Linked DNA regions of Homo sapiens: all the other regions are reported to be linked to region 2. The links are microRNA targets in miRTarBase. Many come from high-throughput screens and were not tested one by one. Region 2 holds a microRNA gene; each other region holds the end of a gene's coding sequence.

Region 1 (3,000 bases), not on the chromosome of region 2:
TTAAAAATGTATTAATTATGTTGGTCTTTCACTGTCTCGTAACAAAAGTTAAGACATTTTTCCTTTTGTTTTTCTCCTCTCCATCCAGGCCAGTCAGTTGGAGGAGCTTTTTCCAGTGCAAAGACAGCTATGTCTTCATGGCTTTCCACTTTCACCACTTCCACCTCCCAAAGTCTCACTGAGCCACCAGATGAGAAGCCTTGAGCAAGGCGTCAGAGGCTGCTATTGCTTTCTGAGGTTTAAGTGTCCCCTGTCTGTCTGCTGCTCCCAGGCTGTTACTAGCCACAGATCCACAGCAGGGGACCATATGTCGAACTGTTTACATGGATGTTGCTCTAAGTGAATGTTTCGGGATGCCGAAATGATGAAATCACAGCCATAGCAGGGATGGCTTTCCAGGTTGGGGTTTCAATTGACTACTTTTATTTCAGTCTGAGCCTGATTAAAACATACAGTGAACCTTCTAATGAATTTTGAGTTCTGATATTGTACATTGGTTTACTTTAGAAGAGTTTTTACTTATGTAAATTTTGTTCTGTTTTGGTGTTTGAATATCTAGATGGTCACTGTAATTTATACTTGCTAAAATTAATTTATATTACCATTTTCTCTAAAGTTGGCCTTAAAACGTGCTTATAAAGTGAAGGGGTCATACAGTTGGGCCTTCATTATTTTGCTGAATTATGTGATGATTTTTTTGCTTTCTACCCACAAAACATTTATTAATTCACTTCCTCCCAGAAACATGAAAGTTAGAGGTGGTAGTTCTGAGGATTGGGTGTTTTGTTTTACGTTTTTAGTTTGTTCTTTCCACATCCTTAAAAACTTGGTTTCAGACATCAAGGAGTATCACTGTGCTTTCCTCCTCTTTATAACTGTGCAGGTGGGTGTGCAGAGAAATAGCAGAGTGATGGTTCGATGATACTGAAGCAGTTTAACATGAATGTGTCTGTAGGGCAATACTTTCAAAGAAGACCTATGTGTTTATTTTTCAACCGCAGTCATGTTGCAGTCTTACAAGCACTTTTTTTTTATTCCAGAGTTTGTGCCATCTGTTTCTCTTTTTTTTTTTGGGGGGGGGGGGGGGGCGGGGTCTCACTCTATCGCCCAGGCTGGAGTGCAGTGGTGCCATCTCGGCTCACTGCAACCTCCATCTCCCGGGTTCAAGCAATTCTTGTACCTCAGCCTCCCAAGTAGCTGGGATTATGGACATGCGCCACCATGCCCAGCTAATTATTGTATTTTTAGTAGAGACGGGGTTTTGCCATGTTGGCCAGGCTGGTCTTGATCTCCTGGCCTCAAGTGATCTGCCCGCCTCAGCCTCTCAAAGTGCTGGGACTACAGGCATGAGCCACTGCGCCTGGCCTGTTTCTTTTTTAAACAGTTTTCTATTGGGTGTTTGCAGACCTACAGCTTTTCTCGTAGTCTTATTCATAAAGCTTTTCAAAGCACTTAGTCTTCTACTTCCCTAACTGAAAGTCCTCCTATAATCAATCCCTACCCCCTTCTAGAAGTATCTTAAAAGAAAAGCAAGGTGATTGTAAGTATTAAATAGAAATCTCATCTTAGTTTATATTCAGCAAAGTAAGAGGCAAGAGAAGAAAACTGCAGCCTTGACATCTGTCATCTGAGAAAGGATATCTGGTTTCATGTTAGGCACATACATGCATGTGTGTGCCATCTACTGATGATTTGTACACAGCTGGACCTCGTGTGTTTGCCATGCTCAGCTCTCATTTGCTTTTCAAGGATACCTGGGATGGCTGTTCTCAGAGAGTACTTACGGGGAACAGACTGCCTTTTAGTAACAAGGGATACTTGGGAAATACATTGTGAGTATGATCTATCCCAGATTGCTGGGGAAATAAAGGAGGGCCCTGATTATATTTGGTTTATTCCTCACTAAATGTTTAAGAAGTAAATGCTCCCAAGGCATTTGAAATGAACATAGAAACATAATCTAAATGTCTCTAAATTTTCCACTTTGTGTTTTCTAAACACAAATTGTATTACTCATTTGAGCATAACTCAAGAATTCAGCGATGATAAATTGAAGGGCTGAATGTGAGAACTCCATTAATTCCACTTCTTCCAAGAAAGTTAACCTCAGGAAATGCTGTTTGAAGAGAAGAAAGTAGTACCAAACAAAAACCTTAAACAGTACTTGAATCTTTTTTGCGCTGAGACTATAAAGAATTCATTCTAACATCTTGTTTCATAAGGGCCACATCATTCGTTGGAGCATGATAGTGTGATTTGTGTACAATTGTTACCTCTCAGCTGCTGAAGTTCACACTTCAAGGATCTAGGAGCTCTGTGAGGGGTCGTCCAGCAAGATGCTGATTTGTCTTTCAGTTGGTATGGTTTCTGTGATCGGGGTAAACTCCCGTCTCCCACTATTCAAAAGCAGCCCAACTCATGCTTTGGAATCCACTGAAATAAAAATAGTTACATGAAGTTTAACTTTGCTTTAATATCACTTGTTCCTCATTGAATATACACTTTGATCGGACTTTCTATTAACATTTCTAGCTAAGAGTTTGACTCTTAGTGGTCACTTTACTGACTTTCCAACATAAAACAAGTATCTCAGAAGATACAACTTTCATCATAGAAATGGTCAAAAGACCATAGCTATATTTCCTTCAGGTTCTGGGAGGTGGAGTTTTTCAAGGAACACTGGCTGTTGTATTGTTGGCAGGGGCCCCAAGGCAGCTCGCACAATCAAAGGCAGGAAGCCTCACCCCTGGTCCTGTGACCCCCCCCCCCCACACACACACATACTTCAGGCTTGGATTCTAGGCTCCAAGTGGCCAGCATAGAAGCAGCAGCCTCTCTCCAAACCCTGGCTCTGTGAGCCATAGGAACCAGCACTAGGTCATCTTCTGACATAGCCCTGGTGAAGGTGTGTGTGTGTTGGTGGCCACACTTGCTAAGGCTTTTGTGTCTAAGAATTGAGTATTTGTACCTAGGTGTGAGGGAACCAGGGTCAGCCAGCCT
Region 2 (3,334 bases):
AGCGCTGGCTCGGGGACTTGAGGGGCAACGGCCGGCGCGCCTCAGTCTACACAGCCGATGCTCAGCACCGCATCTCACTCGGAGTAAACGCAAGTCCTTAGTGTGCTGCGCGGTGGTCCTGCCTTTCTCATCGGCCTCTGTCCCTGCGCCCTCCTTCCTCTTTGCGGCTCTTCAACGTGCTAGGCACTCCCCCACTCGCTCCCTCTCCTTTCAGCTCTACTCCGACGTCACTCCTTCCCAGACGACCTTATTATCCACGCGGTACTTCTCGCCCTACAATAAACCCTTTGTTTTGTGCACCTACAATCTCAAATGCCTATTTTGCTTAAGCATTTTCCCCTTTGTTTCCTCGCTGGAACATAAGCTTCCTAAAGAAAGGAACTTTACATAAAACTATCTGGTTTCATTACTGTGCTTCCAGCGCTGTAACTGCCTGGCCAGCGAAGGTATTGAAAGAGTGTTTGCTTAGCGCATGAGTGTGGGAGCTCTGCTTTCCAGGCGGAGGGAACCAGAAGGGCGAAGACCACGGTGGTGAAAACAAGCAAGGCACTTATGCAGAGCAGAAAGACTGCTGGTGGGGAAAGAGGGGATAACTCCAAATCAGGTTGAGGGTTCCCGGGGAGGTGAGGACTTAGGGTTTTGTAGAGTAGGGAAATGATTTGGGATCTTATTTCATATGTAATGTGAAACCTTTGTAAGGTAGTTAGGATTTGAGTGTGTAGGTGAGACAGAAGCAGCGTTGATGTTTGTAAACTTGGGTTGGCAGGGAATGGGGCAAGGATGGACACAAGGAAGCCAATTAAAAGGTGCCAGAGGGCGACACATGCAAGACAGAGAGCGCAAAACAGGGGGCTTTGTTTTGGAGGTAACGCAGTTGCCCCTTGCTGAGGCATTGAAAGTGGAGGGAGAGGCAGACCCACAGAGGACAGTGGAGTGTGAGCTGGAAGGAGTGGGCCTGGCTCATGTGTCTGTCCTCTTCCAGATCCGGGGCTCCCGGGCTCGAGCCCTGCCGGACAGGGCCCTAGTGAACTGTCAATATAGTTCAGCGACCTTCAGCACAGGTGAGCGCAAGCGACGGCCACATGGGGACCGTAAGTCCTGTGAGATGGGCCTGCAGCTCCGCCAGACTTTCGAAGCAGCCATCCTCACACAGCTGCACCCACGCTCCCAGATTGATATCTATGTGCAGGTGAGCCAGCTGCAGCCGTCAATCCAGGGAGGGAAGGGTGTGATGGGGTTGGGGAGGGAGTCTGATAGACTGACACCCTGGGTTCCCTGCAGGTGCTACAGGCAGATGGTGGGACCTATGCAGCTTGTGTGAATGCAGCCACGCTGGCAGTGCTGGATGCCGGGATACCCATGAGAGACTTTGTGTGTGCGTGCTCAGCTGGCTTCGTGGACGGCACAGCCCTGGCGGACCTCAGCCATGTGGAGGAAGCAGCTGGTGGCCCCCAGCTGGCCCTGGCCCTGCTGCCAGCCTCAGGACAGATTGCGCTGCTTGAGATGGATGCCCGGCTGCACGAGGACCACCTGGAGCGGGTGTTGGAGGCTGCTGCCCAGGCTGCCCGAGATGTGCACACCCTCTTAGATCGAGTGGTCCGGCAGCATGTGCGTGAGGCCTCTATCTTGCTGGGGGACTGACCACCCAGCCACCCATGTCCAGAATAAAACCCTCCTCTGCCCACACACCCCTCACTGTACGTTATCACCTAACAGCACTTCAGAGCCATGTGAAGGCTGGCAGAGCCTGGTCTGGTGCTGGCTCCTGGGGATGATTAGGGACCCTCGCCCACACATGAACGGCCTATCTCTGTGTAGCCTGATTCAAACCCTGAAGAGAACAGTGGATTAGGGGGTTTCTGTAGGGGAGGCCCTGGGTGGAAAAAGCAGCATGTCCCAGTAAGGACTCAAGGCAGCTGAGCAGGAGGCAGGGCCTGGCAAGATGAGCCAGGCCATTAGACTGAGGAATCTGTTACCCTTATTCCAGCACATCGGGGGCCCTGAGCAAAGGGCTGAGGAAGAACTCAGCTGGCTCTGGGTACCCACCCTAGGGATGTGGGGGCCATGTCCCACAACCTCTGGACTATGGTTTGGAGCCCCCTGGGCTTTTCCTGCTGCTTACCTTGGGCTCTGAAAGTACAACAGCCAGGCATGGTGGCTCACGCCTGTAATCCCAGAGCTTTGGGAGGCTGAGGCAGGCGGATTGCTTCAGGTCAGGAGTTTGAGACCAGCCTGGCCAACATGGCGAAACCCCGTCTCTACTAAAAATACAAAATTAGCTGGGAGTGGTGGCACATGCCTGTAATCCAAGCTACTCAGGAGGCTGAGACAGGAGAATCTCTTGAACCTGGGAGGCGGAGGTTGCAGTGAGCCGAGATTGTGCCACTGCACTCCAGCCTGGGCGACAGAGCAAGACTCCATCTAAAAAAAAATAAAAGTACAAAAATTACCTGTTCTCATGGATCACTTGAGGTCAGGAGTTCGAGACCAGCCTGGCCAATGTGGTAAAACCCCATCTCTATTAAAGACACAAAAATTAGTGTGGTGGCAGGCACCTGTAATCCCAGCTACTAGGGAGGCTGGGGCAGGAGAATCACTTGAACCAGGAGTTGAAGGTTGCAGTGAGCCAAGATTACACCACTGCACTCCAGCCTGGGTGACAGAGCAAGACTCTGTCTCAAAAAAAAAACAAAAAAAAACTTGTTCTCACATGGAGTCTTCAGCTTTGACCCTTCTCTCTGCCCACCACTATTTTGTTTGTTGAGACATGGTCTTGCTCTGTGCTCAGGCTGGAGTGCAGTGGTGTGATCACGGCTCACTGCAGTCTGGATCTCCCAGGCTCAAGTGATCCTCCCACTTTAGCCTCCTGAGCTGAGACTACAGGCATGCCCCACTCACCTGGCTAATTTAAAAGGAATTTTTTTGTGTGTACAGACTGGGTCTCATTTCGTTGTCCAGGCTGATCTCAAAGGATCCACCCACCTCACCTTCCCAAAGTGCACCCTCTTGAGCAAACTCCCCCTTCATTCACCTCTGGCCCACCGAGCCCCGACTACCAGTCCCTGCAGTCTGGACCCTGGGACTGCTTCTCCCCTAATATTCCACGGATCTCCTGGCCCGGACAGTGACAGTATGATCCCCCACTTTATAATGCACACACCCCAGCTCCAGTGAAGCCCGTTTTGGCCAGTAGTGCCATCAGCATCTTCTCTGCAGTCATCTGACTCTGAAAACCTCGGTGCTGGGCTCACGCTGTGACTCCACTGGGACGTCCTGAGTCATTGGCAGTCTCGCTTGGCATCCATTCTCTGACCGCCGCCGGCTTTCCACCCAC
Region 3 (3,000 bases), not on the chromosome of region 2:
TCCTGGAGGTGATTGATGTGGACTGGAACAGCATCCGTTACTTCCCCAGCCTGGCGCACCTGTCAAGTCTGAAGCTGGTCATCTATGACCACAATCCTTGCAGGAACGCACCCAAGGTGGCCAAAGGTGTGCGCCGTGTGGGGAGATGGGCAGAGGAGACGCCAGAGCCCGACCCTAGAAAAGCCAGGCGCTATGCGTTGGTCAGAGAGGAAAGCCAGGAGCTACAGGCACCAGTCCCTCTACTTCCTCCTACCAACTCCTGAGGAGCTTCAGTTGCAAGTCAATGCCAAGGACCCAACTGCAGCATGTTCTGGAAGCCTCTCCATTGGAGTGGAAAGGATGGCTCTGGGTCATTTGGGAGTGGCTCTGCTAGTAGAGACTGATGGAGAGAGCCAGGTGGAATGCCATAAATCACACTGAGAAAATATTTCTGGCAAACAGCTCCTCTTCCAGAGGGGAGTTGTGTGCCAATGATGGCATGACAATCCAGAGATCATAACTTCTTTGCAAGAAAACAGCTTCTCCACACATGTATTTTGAAACACTGAAGAGCAAAAGGGGCTGGGACACTCTGAACTCCTGCACTCTCCAGAAGTGACTGGTCATGAAGCTCATGAGCTCCTCAAATAAGGTATTTGCCATAGAACTAAATATTCTGGTGGTCTGTCTCTTTGCAGGACATATTTTCTTTACTGTAAATGACCATAAACAGTATCAATGTATCACTGAGGCCACCGAAAAGGACATTTCTACCTAGGCAATCAGTCAGATTCACAGAAAAAAGTTGTTTGTTGTTGTAAAGGCTCAAGATGAAACTCTTTCCCCAGCAGTTTAGTGCCTGCTGAAAAGATCCCTGATGGACAATACTTCTTGGTGGACTCCAGCTGCCCCTTTTATTATTATTAGAGACAAGGTCTCACTCTGTTGCTAGGCTGGAGTGCAGTGGCACAATCATGGCTCACTGCAGCCCCGAACTACTGGGCTCAAGCCTTCCTCCCGCCTCAGCCTGCCCAGTAACTGGTACTACAGATGTGCACACCTGGCTAAGTCTTTAATTTTTTCGTAGAGATGAGGTCTTGCTATGTTGCCCAAGCTAGTTTCAAACTCCTGGGCTCAAGCGATGCTCCTGCTTCAGCCTCCCAAAGTGCTGGGGTTACAGGCATGAGCCACCACACCCAGCCTTCAGCTGTCACCTTAAACTTGACAGTGGCTCATGCTGATTTAGTTCATTTTCCCTAAAAGGTTTGTCCCAAGATCTGCTCCCAACAGTTGACTGTCACTGACAATGTTGGAAGTCATCTGGAAAAGAGAACCTCTGTGGTAATGTGGTCTCATTAAAGTCAAGCCTTGTTGTGATTCCTGTCTACCTCCCTGAAGCAAAGCCCTTCTGTTTATTCACACTAATGAGCCAGAGCTGAGCTAAATTGAATCCCTGTCCTTGGAGGAAAACCACATTTCCAGAAGCATGTTAGTTTAAAGGTAGTAGGTGAGAAATGTGTTCTCTTGAAACAAGCACTTTGAAATTTGAATAGGAAGTTGTAGTGTATATAGGAAGTCTCTGCCTCTTTCGCCTAGTATCTCTGCCTTTGTTTCAATTTGTTTTGATTTTTACAGACTGTTTTGACAATGTATAAACCAAGGTATTTTGTTTTTTGGAAGTATGTAAATTGTGACCTTCCCACAAATATATAAACTTTAAAGAAATTGTTGTCAGTGGGTAATTTAATAATACAATTCTTTATGTACTTGAACGTTTTCAGCAAACAAGGACACAAAAAGTGTTATCTTAACTAAAACATACAGTACCAAGTTTTTAAAAGGATGTTTTCTGTAAAAGCATCTTAACCCAACAAAGTTTGGTTCTAAAATGACATTACACAGCAGACCTATTTTCATGTATGTCTTCCTACCAGAAATATTTCCTGCTAAACTAGAGGAAGGATGATGTTGCATAATTCCTTCCTATCGTCACCTCCCATCTGCAGAGCATTTGCAACCCATTGATCAGACTGCCAAAAAAGGTCCCTTTAATCATTTAATGTAATAGGTTTAAACTTTCAGGTCAAACATATTTAACTCCTTTAGAAACAAGTCCATATTTCTGTTGGACAGTTAGGATTTATCTCATTCCTAATGACGGAAGCCAAATTATACTCAGCTGATGCTAGAAACTTTTGTCAACAGAACTTGCATTCTAAGCTTAATCTATAGCAAGGTTTATAGATTTCTGACTTTCTTTTGACCCTGTCTTACCCTTCCCAAGATTAATCGGCCATTCTGTAGTTGCAGACTATAACCATAAAACAGAGTGAAGCCAATTGATCCATACAGAACTGTCATCTAAAGAGCTAACTGGTCTGAATCAGTAGTCAAATTATAAACATTTTGGCCCATAATCAAGCTGTTTTCTTCTAAAACAGTCAATACACAAAGAACATTTCTCAAATGGTATGGTCAAGTGTTCGCTGTTGAATTTGCTTTCCAAAAATGTTTTCACTGTAGATTTTCAATCAATTTTTTTTTTTTTTTTTTGAGACAGAATCTTGCCGTGTCGCCCAGGCCGGAGTGCAGTGGCGCTATCTCGGCTCACTGCAAGCTCCGCCTCCCGGGTTCACGCCATTCTCCTGCCTCAGCCTCCCTCAGCCTCCCAAGTAGCTGGGACTACAGGCGCCCGCCACCACGCCCAGCTAATTTTTTGTATTTTTAGTAGAGACAGGGTTTCACTGTGTTAGCCAGGATGGTCTCGTCCTGACCTCGTGATCTGCCCACCTCGGCCTCCCAAAGTGCTGGGATTACAGGTGTGAGCCACCGCAACCGGCCTTCAATCAATTTTATAAAGTATATAAATGCATACTTACATTTCTATAACCCTTCTAATAGTTTCTGGAAATGTTGACACAATTAGAAAGTAAAATAAGAAAATGTTGAAGCACCAAATGTAACTTTTTTGCTCCTGATTTTTAAGTCTTGAAACTCAAAGTGTTAATGCATCAAAGGGAA

What was found. Region 2 holds the annotated microRNA hsa-miR-6847-3p (GGCUCAUGUGUCUGUCCUCUUC, at 958-979, shown strand). A microRNA usually pairs through its seed, bases 2 to 8, with sites in the 3' UTR of a target mRNA and lowers its output. Matches are read on the target gene's strand: a 7mer-m8 pairs with bases 2 to 8, a 7mer-A1 pairs with bases 2 to 7 and ends in A, and an 8mer does both.
Region 1: miRTarBase lists AVL9 as a target of hsa-miR-6847-3p. Seed matches in the 3' UTR shown: 7mer-m8 at 1,346-1,352.
Region 3: miRTarBase lists LRRC10 as a target of hsa-miR-6847-3p. Seed matches in the 3' UTR shown: 7mer-m8 at 613-619 and 7mer-m8 at 1,161-1,167.

The regions. Positions count from the first base shown.
Region 1 is chr7:32,583,704-32,586,703 of GRCh38, forward strand. AVL9 (AVL9 cell migration associated) reads left to right here. Exons shown (of 16, transcript NM_015060.3): 16 at 89-3,000. The coding sequence ends at 204. It also overlaps the pseudogene DPY19L1P1. Among named protein-coding and RNA genes, the nearest start is that of AVL9, 90 kb to the left of the region's middle.
Region 2 is chr8:144,078,961-144,082,294 of GRCh38, forward strand. MIR6847 (microRNA 6847) reads left to right here and starts at 914; the gene lies at 914-982. EXOSC4 (exosome component 4) reads left to right here. Exons shown (of 3, transcript NM_019037.3): 2 at 983-1,189; 3 at 1,282-1,688. The coding sequence ends at 1,641. It overlaps LOC124902038 (a long non-coding RNA gene), which reads right to left. Exons shown (of 2, transcript XR_007061141.1): 1 at 3,161-3,334; 2 at 1-2,421.
Region 3 is chr12:69,607,268-69,610,267 of GRCh38, reverse strand. LRRC10 (leucine rich repeat containing 10) reads left to right here. Exons shown (of 1, transcript NM_201550.4): 1 at 1-1,704. The coding sequence ends at 263. Among named protein-coding and RNA genes, the nearest start is that of LRRC10, 2.1 kb to the left of the region's middle.